Linked DNA regions of Homo sapiens. The protein of the gene in region 2 interacts with the protein of the main gene of each other region in a pairwise test. Each region holds a gene or a part of one and is shown on either strand. Other genes may lie near its edges.

Region 1 (7,027 bases), on a different chromosome or scaffold from region 2:
GTGAGCTATGGTCACACCATTGCTCTCCAACCTAGGCAACAGAGTGAGATGCTATCTCTTGGCTGGGGGGATAAAAGGAGAGAGAGAGGGTCTTCCTATGTTGCCCAGGCTGGACTCCTTCCACCTCAGCCTCCCTAGTAGCTGGGACTACAGGTGCATGCCACGGCACCCAGCTGTAATAATCCTTTTACCCATGAGGAAACTGAAGCTCAAAGCAATGAAATTAACTTGCCCAAAGTTGCATAACTAGTAAATGGCACAGCCAAGATCGAAACCAAGGTCTGACCTTAAGTCCTAGTTGCTTTTCACTACACCCCATTGCCTCAAAAGAACGGACAGTAGTGGTCAGGCATGCAAGGCTCTAGAGTCAGACTGCCTAATCTGAGTCCCAGCTCTGCCACTTACTGGCTGTGTGCCCTCGGGTAAGTTACGTAACCCCTCTGTTCCCTCATTTTTTTTATTTTTATTTCTACCTGAACAGTCCTATTGCAGAATCTGTTCCCTCAATTGAAAATGGCAATGACGGCCGGGTGCAGTGGCTCATGCCTGTAATCCCAGCACTCTGGGAGGCCGAGGCGGGCAGATCATGAGGTCAGGAGTCCGAGACCAGCCTGCCCAGCATGGTGAAACCCCGTCCCTACTAAAAATTCAAAAAATTAGCCGGGCATGGTGGCACACACTTGTAGGCCCAGCTACTTGGGAGGCAGAGGCAGGAGAATTGCTTGAACCCAGCAGGTGGAGGTTGCAGCGAGCCAAGATTGTGCCACTACACTCCAGCCTGGGCGACAGAGTGAGACTCCATCTCAAAAAAAAAGAAAAAAGAAAATGGCAATGACAACAATACCAATCAATACCAATGATGTAGGGTGGTTGACAGGATTAAATGTAAGGTGCTTAGTACTGTTTCTGACACACAGCAGGTGCTAAATCAAACTGATGCTCAATAAATATCTGCTGACTTACCAATTTCAACCTAAAGAAAGATCAATTCTGTTACCTTCCAGATCAGGAGTGGACCCAACCCCAAAATCTCTCCTCCCTTGGGTGAGTCCTGTGATCACAGGGTGTATCTTTTGAAGACCCTATTCCCTCCTCTTCACCTTAGAGTTGGGGACCCCACTGCACTCACAAACTGAAGAAAAGCTTCTCATTAATGCCCGAAATGACGGATGCGATGGACAGAGAGAGGATGGCGGCTCCAAAAAAGACGTGGATAGGTTTTAGGAGGCTGCGCAGCCACATGGACGCCCAGGGCAGGAGGAAGACAGCAAAGCCCAGGAACCACTGTGGACAAAAGGGAGGACACACCCGACTGTGCTATGTGTGACCAAAGCACATCCCACCCCATCAGTGCCTCCTCCCCATCTCTGCTCCCTGGCTCTTCTTTCACAACTCAAACCTTCCCACCTGGCATTGCCCACTACCGTGCTAGCTTCCTCATTGTGGCCTATTACCCAAGCAACAAGAACAGTAAATGACATGCTTAGCTACCATCCCACTCCCAGCAAACCCAACCACCTTGTTTGTCTCTGGTTCCTTCCAGTCCTTGCTCATAAAACTCTTCACTCGCACAGGCCTGAGATCAGAATATGGAAACCACTTCAAGAATTCTTTTGGTTCACAGAGGTGGGAGTGGGGAAAGTGGAAGCCAGATGGCTGATTAGAGTCAGCATAGTGCGTGCCATGACAAAGTTAGCAGAGAGGGCTCTGGGACGAGAGACGGGCAATGGGAGGGATAAAAGGAACAGGGTAAGTTCAGGCCACTGACCTCCCACAGCCCTTGAATAAACTGTCAGTTCTACAAGATAACAATCTGCAAGTCCCTCTCCAAGCAGTGAGCAGAGGAATATTTGGTGCTCATGCAAGTGAACCCCCAACCAGAGCTCATGGCTCTGGGAACCTCGAGGAGGAGAACAGAGAGAACCCACCTGGCAGGCGAAGAGGAAGACAGTGGTGATGCCCAGCCAGCTGTGAAGGGAGTAGAGGTTGGCAGTCCTTCCATGGTTGTGAAACGTAAAGACAGCAACCAGCCCCACAACAGTGAGGACGAAGGCCATCAGGTGCAGCGCTGCATGGAGGAGTTTCCAGGGCAGTTTGGGCCCCACCCACGACTGGGGCAGGCGGTACACCAGTGACGCTGCAGGAGAGAGTAGTGCCAGGGCTCAGCCTCTCCCCTCGAGCTCACCCAGACATCAGGGAATAACCCTGATAGGATCCTACACAGCTTCCCAGCAAGGGAACAGGAAATGCTAGGGCACTGGTATCAACTCCTCGGCATCTTCTACCCTCCCATGATTTGTGGGATAACAGCCATGAAGGGAGGAGAGAAGGGCCAGTTAAAAAGGGAGGAGTGGTCAGGCAAGGTGGCTCATGCCTGTAATTCCAGCACTTTTTGGGAGGCCAAGGTGGGAGGACTGCTTGAGGCCAGGAGTTTGAGGTTACAGTGAGCTATGATCATGCCACTGCAATCTAGCCTGGGCCACAGAGAGAAATAAATAAATAAACAGATTCCAATTAAAAAGGGAGGAGGGCTGGGCACGGTGACTCATGTCAGCACTTTGGGAGGCCAGAAGTTCAAGATCAGCCTGGGCAACATAGCAAGATCCTGTGTCCACAAAAAATAAAAATAAAAAATATTATCCGGGCATGGTGGCACATGCCTGTTCTCTCAGCTACTTGGGGGACTGAGGTGGGAGGATCACTTGAGCCTAAGAGTTCAAGGCTGCAGCAAGCTATGATCATCCCACTGCACTCTAGCCTGAAAAAGAGGGAAACCTGTCTCCTAAAAAAAAAGTGGAGGGGGGAAGCAGGTTTCTTGGACCTCTCATTCTATTTTCACAATAATAAATTCAGCTTGTTTGCAGTTTCTAGGCTAAAAAGCATCATGACAGTCATTGTTTCATCAAACTGAATTGTCACAAGTGAGGCTGGCTGTCAACACAGGTACTAAGGTCAGGCAACATAGGTCCAAATCCAGGCTCTGCCTCTTAGCTGTTTGGCCTCTCCTTTCTTTTTTTTTTTTTTTTTTTTTGAGACAGAGTCTCGTTCTATCATCCAGGCTGGAGTGCAGCGGCGCAATCTCAGCTCACTGCAAGCTCCGCCTCCCGGGTTCACGCCATTCTCCTGCCTCAGCCTCCCAAGTAGCTGGGACTACAGGTGCCTGCCACCATACCCGGCTAATTTTTTGTATTTTTAGTAGAGACGGGGTTTCACTGTGTTAGCGAGGATGGTCTCGATCCCCTGACCTCATGATCCGCCCACCTCAGTCTCCCAAAGTGCTGGGATTACAGGCGTGAGCCACCACGCCTGGCCTGGCCTCTCCTGTCTAACTCTCAATTTCCTCATCTGTAAAAGGGATATAACAGAGCCCACCTCACAAACTTGTAAGAACAAAATGGGATGATATATGTGAACTGCACATGGTAAGCTGCTATCATCAATGGCATCGTATTGCCATTTTACAAATGGGGAAAATGAGGCTCACCAGGGCCCCAAGGCACAGATTTGAAAGCATGGGACAAAGATTACAAAGATGGATCCCAGGTTGGGCGCAGTGGCTCACACCTGTAATCCCAGCACTTTGGGAGGCAGAGGCGGGTGGATCACCTGAGGTCAGGAGTTCGAGGCCAGCCTGACCAACATGGTGAAACCCCATCTCTACTAAAAAATATAAAAATTAGCTGGGCATGATGGCGGGCACCTATAATCTCAGGTACTTGGGAGGCTGAGGCAGGAGAATGGCCTGAACCCAGGAGGCGGAGGTTGCAGTGAGCCAAGATCACGCCATTGCACTCCAGCCTGGGCAACAAGAGCAAAACTCCATCTCAAAAAAAGAAAAAAAAAAAAAAGATGGATCCCGGAAGAGCAAGCAAGTCCCTCATTCGGTGGCCTGACTAAACCATGAGAGGCTTCAATCTCCTGTTCTCTAGAGCTGGTTAAAAACTACAGCTCAGGTCGGGCATGATGGCTCAAGCCTGTAATCCCAGCACTTCAGGAGGCTGAGGTGGGCAGATCACAAGGTCAGGAGATCAAGACCATCCTGGCTAACACGGTGAAACGCTGTCTCTACTAAAAATACAAAAAAAAATTAGCCGGTCACGGTGGCAGGCGCCTGTAGTCCCAGCTACTCGGGAGGCTGAGGCAGGAGAATGGCGCAAACCTGGGAGGTGGAGCTTGCAGTGAGCCGATATCACGCCACTGCACTCCAGCCTGGGCGACACAGCAAGACTCCGTCTAGAGAAAAAAAAAAAAAAAAAAAACACTACAGCTCAAAGGCCAAATCCAGCTCGCTACCTATGTTTGCAAATAAAGCTTTATTGGAACACGTGATCCACACTTGTGTGTATGTGTTGTCTATGGCTGCTCTCACAATACAGTGGCAGAGCTGAGTAACTGCAACACAGATTCTGTCTTGCAAAACTGAAATATTTATCTGACCCTCTATAGAAAGTTTGCCAACTCCTGCCCTAGAGTATTTGTGAAGCCACCCTTCTGAGATGCCCCCCATCTTAACCCCTTCCTCCCCCAAATGACAGCTAGGCCCAGAGACAGCCCAACCCACCCTACCCCCATAGCCCCAAGCCCAACATTTACAAAGGCCAGCCTTGGAGAGGGAAAGTGCAGCTTTGTCCAGCCTGAGCCCTATCCCGCCTCCCTTCCTGACCTCTTACTCACCACCTCCATAGAATACCACCATGCCAGCAACCATAAGCACTGGGTGCCAGTTGAACATGTAGATGCTGCCATTCCAGGCAAAGCCACCACGCCAGTACTGCATCCAGTAGATAGTGAAGAGGATGCACATAGAGCCCAGGGACCCCAGCAGCAGGCAGGACAAGTAGAACCGTCCAGACACCATTCTGATCACGCACTCCTAGAAGAAGGAGAAGTCACAAATCTCCACTGGCTCAGATGCACCCAGTTCTCTGGCTAAAGGAGGTAACACTGATTTAGCTCTTGGCCTGTGGGATGGAATCTTTTTGCTTCAGTTCCCCTGCATCAGCCTGGGCACCACCCCCCGCCCGAGGCCTCAATGCCTGGGTGGGCCTGATCTTCAGTCACAATGACTGAGGCCCCACCCCAGCACCTGGCAGTGCCCAGACAGAGCAGCAAACTCAAGGCTATGGCTGGCCCTGGCGAAGGCCAGATGCCAAGGCCCAAGACCCAGAGTCCTGGGATTCCTCTCCCCTCACAGGACCAGAAGGTAAAGAATTACCACCCCATACCCCCCAGGAAAAAAGGGACAGGAATCAAAATCCAGGCTAAATTACGCAAACACCCAGGCCTTGGGTTCTAAGATAAGAAGGCAAAAATTACAGTCTGAAAAGAGCAAACACCCCACTATTACCCTAGACAGGAAGGAGTCAGAAAAGTTCTTCCCCATAGAGTAAGCTCTATGGGGCTAATCTTCACTGGAGAGGTAACCAGGCCTTCACTCCACTGCCCACACTCCACACCTTGAACCAGCTGATGCCCCTCAGCTGTCTCCAGCCCTGAGACTTCTGCTTTCTCTTCCTCTGGGGAAAGTCCAGAGAAAAAAAGAGGAAGCAACAACTCATGGTCCAGAAAGCAAGAGATTTATTTTGAGATTTCCACAAGTCCTTGATAAACCCAGAAACCAACTCTGGTTTCAGGCATGGCAAATGCTTAAAGCCCTGAGCAGTTGCTCTTAAACGCTAGGTGAGTGGGCAAAGCCACAGGACTGGCCCTGCTTTCAGCTAATATGTAGGCAGCACGGGCCCAGGCATCAAGGCAGTCACCCTGTCCCACGGACTCACACCAAGAAGGCAACAGTGTGGCTTCCTGCATTGAGGTCCCTCACTCGGAAGCAGCTAATAGCCAATAGCCCCCACGGAGGTAAAACATTTGACTGCTCACCTTTAGCCCTAATGATAGGCTCAGAGAACTGGCCTGGGCTCCAATTCCTGCGAAATGGGCACCTTGAGCAAATCACTTAACATTTGCAGGACTCACCTGCAAGAAAGGCGTGGCAGTAAGAATACTTGAACAGTAAGAATAACGAACACCAGCTACGAGCACCAGAGCCTTACACACAAGATCCCATTTACTCCTCTTAACCCTGGGAGGCATATTATTCCGTGAGGAAACTAAGGCTGAGAGAGATAAGTAATTAGCATGAGGACCCAGTGAGAGTGGGTGGGGAGTTCCAAATCCTGTGTGTTTAGCTTCAAGGCCCACGCTGCTTCCTTGACCACAGGTTGTCAGATCAAGTGAGAAAATGAATGTAGCACACTGTAGAAGTCAAGTATTAGAATTCTTCGCTGGGCGCGATGGCTTATGCCTGTAATCCTGCACTTTGGGAGGCTGAGGCAGGTGGATCACCTGAGGTCAGGAGTTCGAGACCAGACTGATCAACATGGTGAAACCCCGGTCTCTACTAAAAATACAAAATTAGCCAGGAGTGGTGGTGGGCGCCTGTAATCAATCCCAGCTACTCAGGAGGCTGAGGCAGGAGAATTGCTTGAACCAGGGAGGCAGAGGTTGCAATGAGCCAAGATTGTGCCATTGCACTCCACCCTGAGCAATGAGAGCGAAACTTCATCTCAAAAAAAAAAAAAAAAAAAGGCTGGGTGAGGTGGCTCACACCTGTAATCCTAGCACTTTGGGAGGCCGAGGCGGGCAGATCATAAGGTCAAGAGATCGAGACCATCCTGGCCAATATGGTGAACCCCCGCCCCCATCTCTACTAAAAATAAAAAATTAGCTGGGCATGGTGGCGCGCGCCTTTAGTCCCAGCTAGCTACTCGGTAGGCTGAGGCAGGAAAATCGCTTGAACCCGGGAGGTGGAGGTTGCAGTGAGCTGCGATCACGCCACTGCACTCCAGCCTGGCGACTGAGCGAGACTCCATCTAAAAATATATATATATACATAGAATTCTTAGTCATTGCTGTCATGCACTTCATCCTAACTACTAACATGCAGCTCATGTTCCTTGTGCCTGCCCAGGCCTCTCAGTGGCCCTCAGCCATGCCATGCCAGCTCTCCCCATGCTAGGGGTCCACCTAC
Region 2 (7,027 bases):
ATTTAGTATGCAGATTATGTTTTCCCCTCTAGATCTCTGTCGAAAAAATGCAAAGCTTTTAGAGAAGTTGCATGTACAATGAAAACCAATATTATTTTTCTCATTGACAATAATTTGTTCTGCCAGATCTAGGAAAAGCAGTTTAAAAAAACCAATAGTTTGGGGTTCATTTTTATAAAATTATTTCTTATTAAATATTGAGTAGGTATAAAAGAATATTTATAAAATATTTATTACCCGTAGCAAATAATGGTGCTACAAGCAGTTGTGTACCTGCCAAGTTGGTTTAAGATATTTTTGTCCGGGTGCGGTGACTTATGCCTATAATCCCATAGTGACAATGCCCAGGCAATTGAAGCTGCAATGAGCCATGATCACACCACTGCAACTCCAGATTGGGAGACCAAACAAGACTCCTTATTTACCAGAGATTGACTAAAGGAAAAAAGAAGTTGAAGGCCAGGCATGGTGGCTCACGCCTGTAATCCCAGAACTTTGGGAGGCCGAGGCTGGCAGATCATTTGAAGTCAGGAGTTCGAGACCAGCCTGGCCAACATGGTGAAACCCCCGTCTCTACTAAAAATATAAAAATTGGCATGGTGGAGCACACCTGTAGTCTCAGGTACCTAGGGGGTGAGGTGGGAGACTTGCTTGAGCCTGGGAGACTTGCTTGAGCCTGGGATGCGGAATTTGCATTGAGCCAATGTTGTCCCACTGCATTCCAGCCTGGGCGACAGAGTGAGACTCTGTCTCAAAAAAATAAAAAGAAAAAAGAAAAAATAAATAAAATAGAATGAACCAGATGATATGGCTGTCTTAGAGCAAGCAAGAGAGTGGGACAAGGTGAGGCGAGATTAGAGAGGTAGACTGCTCTGGAATAAAGAGGAACATCAAGGCCTTGATAAGAAATGAAGGTTTTATTTTTATTTATTTATTTTTTTGAGATGGAGTCTCGCTCTATCGCCCAGACCGGAGTGCAGTGGCGCGATCTCGGCTCACTGCAAGCTCTGTCTCCCAGGTTCATGCCATTCTTCTGCCTCAGCCTCCCAAGTAGCTGGGTCAGCAGGTGCCCACCACCACGCCCGGCTAATTTTTTGTATTTTTAGTACACATGGGGTTTCACTGTGTTAACCAGGATGGTCTCAATCTCCTGACCTCGTGATCGCCCTCCTCGGCCTCCCAAAGTGTTGGGATTATAGGTGTGAGCCACCGCACCTGGCCGGAGTTTTTATTTTAAATAAGATCGGAAGCTATGAAGGCTTTCATTAGAGCTTTGAGGCACACATGAGTTTACAAAATAGAAGTTAGACACCTATATATCTATAAAGTAATACCTAATTCATTATTTATATAATCCAGTGGACCAGAAGAACAAACATTAAAAAAATCTGTAAACCAATATCCCTTTTTCTATTTTGAAATAATCTCTTAGTATAAAGTATTTACTAACTTTATGCTAGTTTATTTACAAAATGCCTTTGAGAAGAGACTGAAAGTATTCAGTGGATCCACTACTGATTGTCTTTTTTAAAGAAATTCTTTTTAATCTTTCGGCAGACATGTGCATTGCCATTGCGATTTCTCTTCTCATGATCCTGATATGTGCTATGGCTACTTACGGAGCGTACAAGGTAAGCCGCTTGCAGTAAGATGCTGGCCTTTTCCTTGGTCTCTTACATGTGTAATCTGTGCTGCTGTCTATAGTGAGAAGTGACTTTCCAGTTTTCTGTTAAGAATCTCTGTTTAAATCTCTCGTTTGTATTATGTGGTACTAGGAAAACCAATATTATACTGGAAATTTTTTTTTTTTTGGGAAGACGGGGTCTCACTCTGTCACACAGGCTGGAGTAGAGTGGTGTGATCTTAGCTCACTGCAATCTCCGCCTCCCAAGTTCAAGTGATTCTCCCACCTCAGCCTCCAGAGTAGCTGGGACTACAGGTGTGTGCCACCACACCTTGCTGATTTTTGTATTTTTTAGTAGAGACGTGATTTCACCATGTTGGGCAGGCTAGTCTCGAACTCCTGACCTTAAGTGATCCACCCACCTCAGCCTCCCAAAATGCTGGGATTACAGGTGTGAGACACCACACACAGCCAGTCCTGGAAATGTTCACTGAAGCTTATTTGTTGACTGCTTATATTTGGCATACTGGTTTCCACCATGACCTGGGTTAATGAATTCCAATTTTTCCATTTCCTTTCAGATTAATAAAATACTTTGAATTTAAGAAAAATATTGTTTTATAATATTGAACACATTAACTTTCTATTTTCTGTTCTGTTTAGCAACGCGCAGCCTGGATCATCCCATTCTTCTGTTACCAGATCTTTGACTTTGCCCTGAACATGTTGGTTGCAATCACTGTGCTTATTTATCCAAACTCCATTCAGGAATACATACGGCAACTGGTACGTGGACCTCTTACTGCTCCTTTTCATTAATTCTTTTCATTAGGGAAGCTGGTTAAGTAAGGGATGTGTAGAGATACACAGACATTAATTTCAGGATTTTTAGCTTGCAGCTGAGTTACTCATAGGAAATTTCTTTTTTCTTTTTTTTGAGGTGGAGTCTTGCTCTCGTCACCCAGGCTGGAGTGCAGTGATGCGATCTCGGCTCACTGCAACCTCTGCCTCCAGGGTCTCAGCCTCCCAGCTAGCTGGGATTATAGGCATGTACCAACATACCTGGCTAATTTTGTATTTTTAGTAGAGATGGGGTTTCACTGTGTTGGTCAGGCTGGTCTTGAACTCCTGACCTCAGGTGATCCACCCATCTTGGCCTCCCAAAGTGCTGGGATTATGGGTGTGAGCCACTGTGCCTGGCCTGATAAAGTTTTGAGGGCCGGGGTTATGATTGGTGGCAGTGATGGTGGTGGTTGATGTGCCTACCTAAATTATAGTCCAGTTACTAATAGTCGTATTTGGTAAAATGTAGTTTTCTCAGTTATCAACAAAGGATAGCTTTTTGCCTTTGCTAGTGTGTTGAAAGTGGGACTCTGCTCAAAAACAAACAAAATAATTAGCTGGGAGAGGTGGCACACGCCTGTGACCCTAGCCACTCGGGAGGCTGAGGCAGGAGAATTGCTTGAACCTGGGAGGTGGAGGCTGCAGTGAGCCAAGATCACGCCACTGCACTCCAGCCTGGGCAATAGAGTGAGATCTCATCTAAAAAAAAAGAAAAATCAAAAGAAAGTGGAAAGAAAGTGGAACACTGCTGTATACTAGCTCCCAAATTTGTTTGACCATAGAATCCCTTTCTCAAGCATCATTTTGGGACTAGTTTACGGTTAAATGTCCTTTGTGACCATATGAGTGAATATTGGTGGCAGGGTATTAAGAAGCTTATAATGGCTATGAGGTTGGAATAACTTTATTTATTTTTGGGACAGGGTCTCTGTCACCCAGGCTGGAGTGCAGTGGTGTGATTATGGCTTGCTGCAGCGTTGACCTCCCAGGCTCCCGTGATCCTCCCATCTCAACCTCTTGAGTAGCTGGCACTATAGGCATGCACCACCATGCCCACCTAATTTTTCTTTTTGTATCTTATGTAGAGATGGGGTTTCACCATGTTGCCCAGGCTTGTCTCAAACTCCTAGACTCAAGTGATCCTCCAGCCTTGGCCTCCCAAAGTGCTGGCATTATAGATGTGACTCACTGTACCAGGCCAACTTTACTTTTTTTTTTTTTTTTTTTTGAGACAGAGTCTCACTCTATCACCTAGGCTGGAGTGCAGTGTTGTGATCTCGGCTCACTGCAACCTCCGCCTCCCTGGGTTCAAGCCATTCTCCTGCCTCAGTCTCCTGAGTAGCTGGGATTACAGGCACCCGCTACCAAGCCTGGCTAATTTTTTGTATTTTTAGTAGAGATGGGGTTTCACCATCTTTTCCAGGCTGGTCTCAAACATTTAGCCTCAGAGGATCCACCCTCATCGGCCTCCCAGAGTGCTAGGAATACAGGCGCCCACTACCATGCCTGGCTAATTTTTGTATTTTTTTTTTAGTAGAGGTGGGGTTTTGCCATGTTGACCAGGCTGGTCTCGAACTCCTGACCTCAGGTGATCCGCCCACCTTGGCCTCCCAAAGTGCTGAGATTACAGGCGTGAGCCACCATGCCCAGCCTGCAACCTCAATCTTCTGGGCTCAAGTGATCCTTCCACCTTAGCCTCCCAAGTAGTTTGGACTACAGACATGCACCACCATGCCCGGCTAAATTTGTATTTTTAGTAGAGATGGGGTTTGACTATGTTGTCCAGGCTGGTCTCAAACACCTGCACTCAAGCAATCTGCCTGCCTCAGCCTCCCAAAGTGCTGAAATTACAGGCATGAGCCACTGTGCTTGGCCAAGTTATTTTATTAATAAAAGAGTAAAGTTGCATGATCTGATCACAAAGAATGACGATTTTATTTCTTAGATATTTTGTCCCAAGTGAAAGGAGACTGAAAACCATTAGGTGGTGTTCACCCTGGTGAGCAGGAGCCAAGCCCATGAGTCATGGGCCTTCTCCATGTTCTTCCTCAACATTGGAAACAACTTTGTTTTGGAATATTGCTCGTGAGGAATCCAAACACATAGTGTTGAATGGTGAAGGGAGATAAAAGATGAGATAGCACAGTAGGCTGCCTTCCCATTCACTTGCCTAGGCCAGTGATGTAGGCGTTGATCAATGCTGTGTGAGTGTTCTGTGGGGAAAGTCCGGCAACTCCCTCTAACCATAGTAGCAGACTTTGATCCTCCTGAAAAGGTTCCCTTTGACCTGGTTGTTAAGCATTGTGGATGGTAGTGCTTGATTATTTCCCCCCACCCTGGAAGTACTTGCTAGTATAAGAGAATATGCTGTCTTGGGAGAAGTACCATCAACAAAAATGCTCTTTGCAAAGAAGACCTCATTTTAGTAGGTTTCTGTCCCTTGCCCTGCATATGCCCTTTAGAATGGTTCAGAACTTTTGAGACATGGTCTGGCTCTGTCGCCCGGGCGGCTGGAGTGCAGTGGCATGATCTCGCTCACTGCAACCTCCACCACCAGGGCTCAAGTGATTTGCTCACCCCAGCCTCCCAAGTAGCTGAGCTGGGCGACAGAGAGAAACTCCATCTCAAAAAAGAAAAAAAAAAAAAAAAGGAATGGTTCAGAACTTGCAGAGAATACAAATTTCAGAGATCCCTGGATATACAAAATGTCCCTGGATACCGATCACTGACGTCTTTTATATGGTAAGAGGGCAGAGTCAGGCTAGAAATTTTGTATTGGTTCTAAATAATAGCTGTCTGCTTTAATCAGTTGCTTTCTGATAAGCATGTCTGAATTGGTGCCCAAGGAATACTGTCTGGAATGATTAATGAGATTTGCTAATGAGGCCCTTTTCTTTTGCAGCCTCCTAATTTTCCCTACAGAGATGATGTCATGTCAGTGAATCCTACCTGTTTGGTCCTTATTATTCTTCTGTTTATTAGCATTATCTTGACTTTTAAGGTAAGCATGAAGATTTTACTTATAGTCTAAAAATATTAAGTGTATTCCTGAATACCAAATAAGTAAACAAACTTTGGTCAGTTTATTGTCTTTCTTTGGACATCCAAATTGCTTTTTGATTTCCTAAGATTACAATTCTTTATGCTGTCTATGTTGGAGGTAAACACTAATCAAAATTCCACAGTTTGATCAAGGAGTCCAAAATATATTTGGACAGAGATAAGTTAACATAATGTTATACATTACATAGTATATGATATTGCAACGTCTGTTACAAGGTCTGTGTAATGGATATTCTTTTGTAATTTTTTGCTAAAAGTGTAATATTTTCTGAATATTGTTCTATCTCAATCCATTATATGAATATCATTATTTAATAAATTACTTGATGAGCATTGAGACATTTTTTACTTTTTCACTTAATAGGGCTGTAGTGAATATATTTAAGTACATCCTTATATTTATGCATTTATCTCAAGATAAATTTCCTTTTTTTTTTTTTTTTTTTTTTTTTGAGATGGAGTCTCGCTCTGTCGCCCAGGTTGGAGTGCAGTGGCGCAACCTCGGCTTACTGCGAGCTTCGCCTCCCGGCTTCACGCCATTATCTTGCCTCAGCCTCCCCAGTAGGTGGGACCACAGATACCCGCCACCATGCCCAGCAAATTTTTTTGTATTTTTAGTAGAGATGGGGTTTCACTGTGTTAGCCAGGATGGTCTCGATCTCCTGACCTCATGATCCGCCCACCTCGGCCTCCCAAAGCTGGGATTACAGGCATGAGCCACTGTGCCCGGCTTCAAGATAAATTTCTTAAAATCAGGGTGTTCATGGTTGGAAAGCCTTTGATAGGTTGTCAAATTGATGTCCCCCAAAGTTAAATGACTTCTACTTCCTGCAGCAGTGCCTCACCCTTATCAATCAATTGCTGCAAATTCTTTTTCATCTTGGTCAATCTGTTTATAAAACCATCATTATAACTTGTGCTTATGAGCTACTAATGGGTAGAAAACTCTCATGGCTCTTTATGCTTTCAACTTTTTTCTTTTTTTATTTATTTTTCTTTCTTTCTTTTTTTTTTTTTTTTGAGGTAGGGTCTCTCCCTGTAGTCTAGGCTGCCTCCTGCCTTGGTTTCCCAAAGTTTTGGGATTACAGGTGTGAACCACTGCACCCAGCATACTTTGAATTTTTGAATCTCAATGCCTTTCATTGTCTTAATTTTGGCATAAAATTATGTCATTCTTCAAAAATCATGCCTCAGTAAACTTGGGAAAGCTGCATTGAGGCAGAAAATTCATATAGGTACTGTGATGAAAAGGAGTAGAAAGAAAGTGGTTCATTGGAAACCAGTTGGCCAGGTGAAATGGCTCACACCTGTGATCCCAACACTTTGGGAGGCTGAAGTGAGAAGATTGTTTGAGCTGGGAGTGTGAGGCTGTAGTGTGCTATGATAGCAGCACTGTACTTCAGCCTGGGTGACAGAGTGAGACCCCGTCTTGTTGTTGTTGTTGTTGAGACAGAGTCTCACTCTGTCACCTAGGCTGGAGTGCAGAGGTGCGATCTC

Evidence for each region.
Region 1: the proteins of LAPTM4B (region 2) and CYB561A3 interact in binary tests that used the Homo sapiens proteins (3 or more experiments, as listed by UniProt).

What each region holds. Positions count from the first base shown.
Region 1 is NC_000011.10:61,351,856-61,358,882, forward strand, and holds part of CYB561A3 (lysosomal membrane ascorbate-dependent ferrireductase CYB561A3), read right to left. Parts: intron 5,974-7,027; 5' UTR 5,878-5,973; intron 5,517-5,877; exon of another isoform or gene 5,384-5,516; coding exon of another isoform or gene 5,348-5,383; exon of another isoform or gene 4,874-5,347; coding exon of another isoform or gene 4,859-4,873; coding exon 4,675-4,858; intron 2,138-4,674; coding exon 1,929-2,137; intron 1,708-1,928; exon of another isoform or gene 1,577-1,707; coding exon of another isoform or gene 1,519-1,576; exon of another isoform or gene 1,328-1,518; coding exon of another isoform or gene 1,285-1,327; coding exon 1,130-1,284; coding exon of another isoform or gene 1,005-1,129; intron 1-1,004. UniProt on the Homo sapiens protein: Transmembrane reductase that uses ascorbate as an electron donor in the cytoplasm and transfers electrons across membranes to reduce iron cations Fe(3+) into Fe(2+) in the lumen of the late endosome and lysosome.
Region 2 is NC_000008.11:97,813,771-97,820,797, forward strand, and holds part of LAPTM4B (lysosomal-associated transmembrane protein 4B), read left to right. Parts: intron 1-1,557; coding exon 1,558-1,631; intron 1,632-2,287; coding exon 2,288-2,410; intron 2,411-5,369; coding exon 5,370-5,468; intron 5,469-7,027. UniProt on the Homo sapiens protein: Required for optimal lysosomal function. Blocks EGF-stimulated EGFR intraluminal sorting and degradation.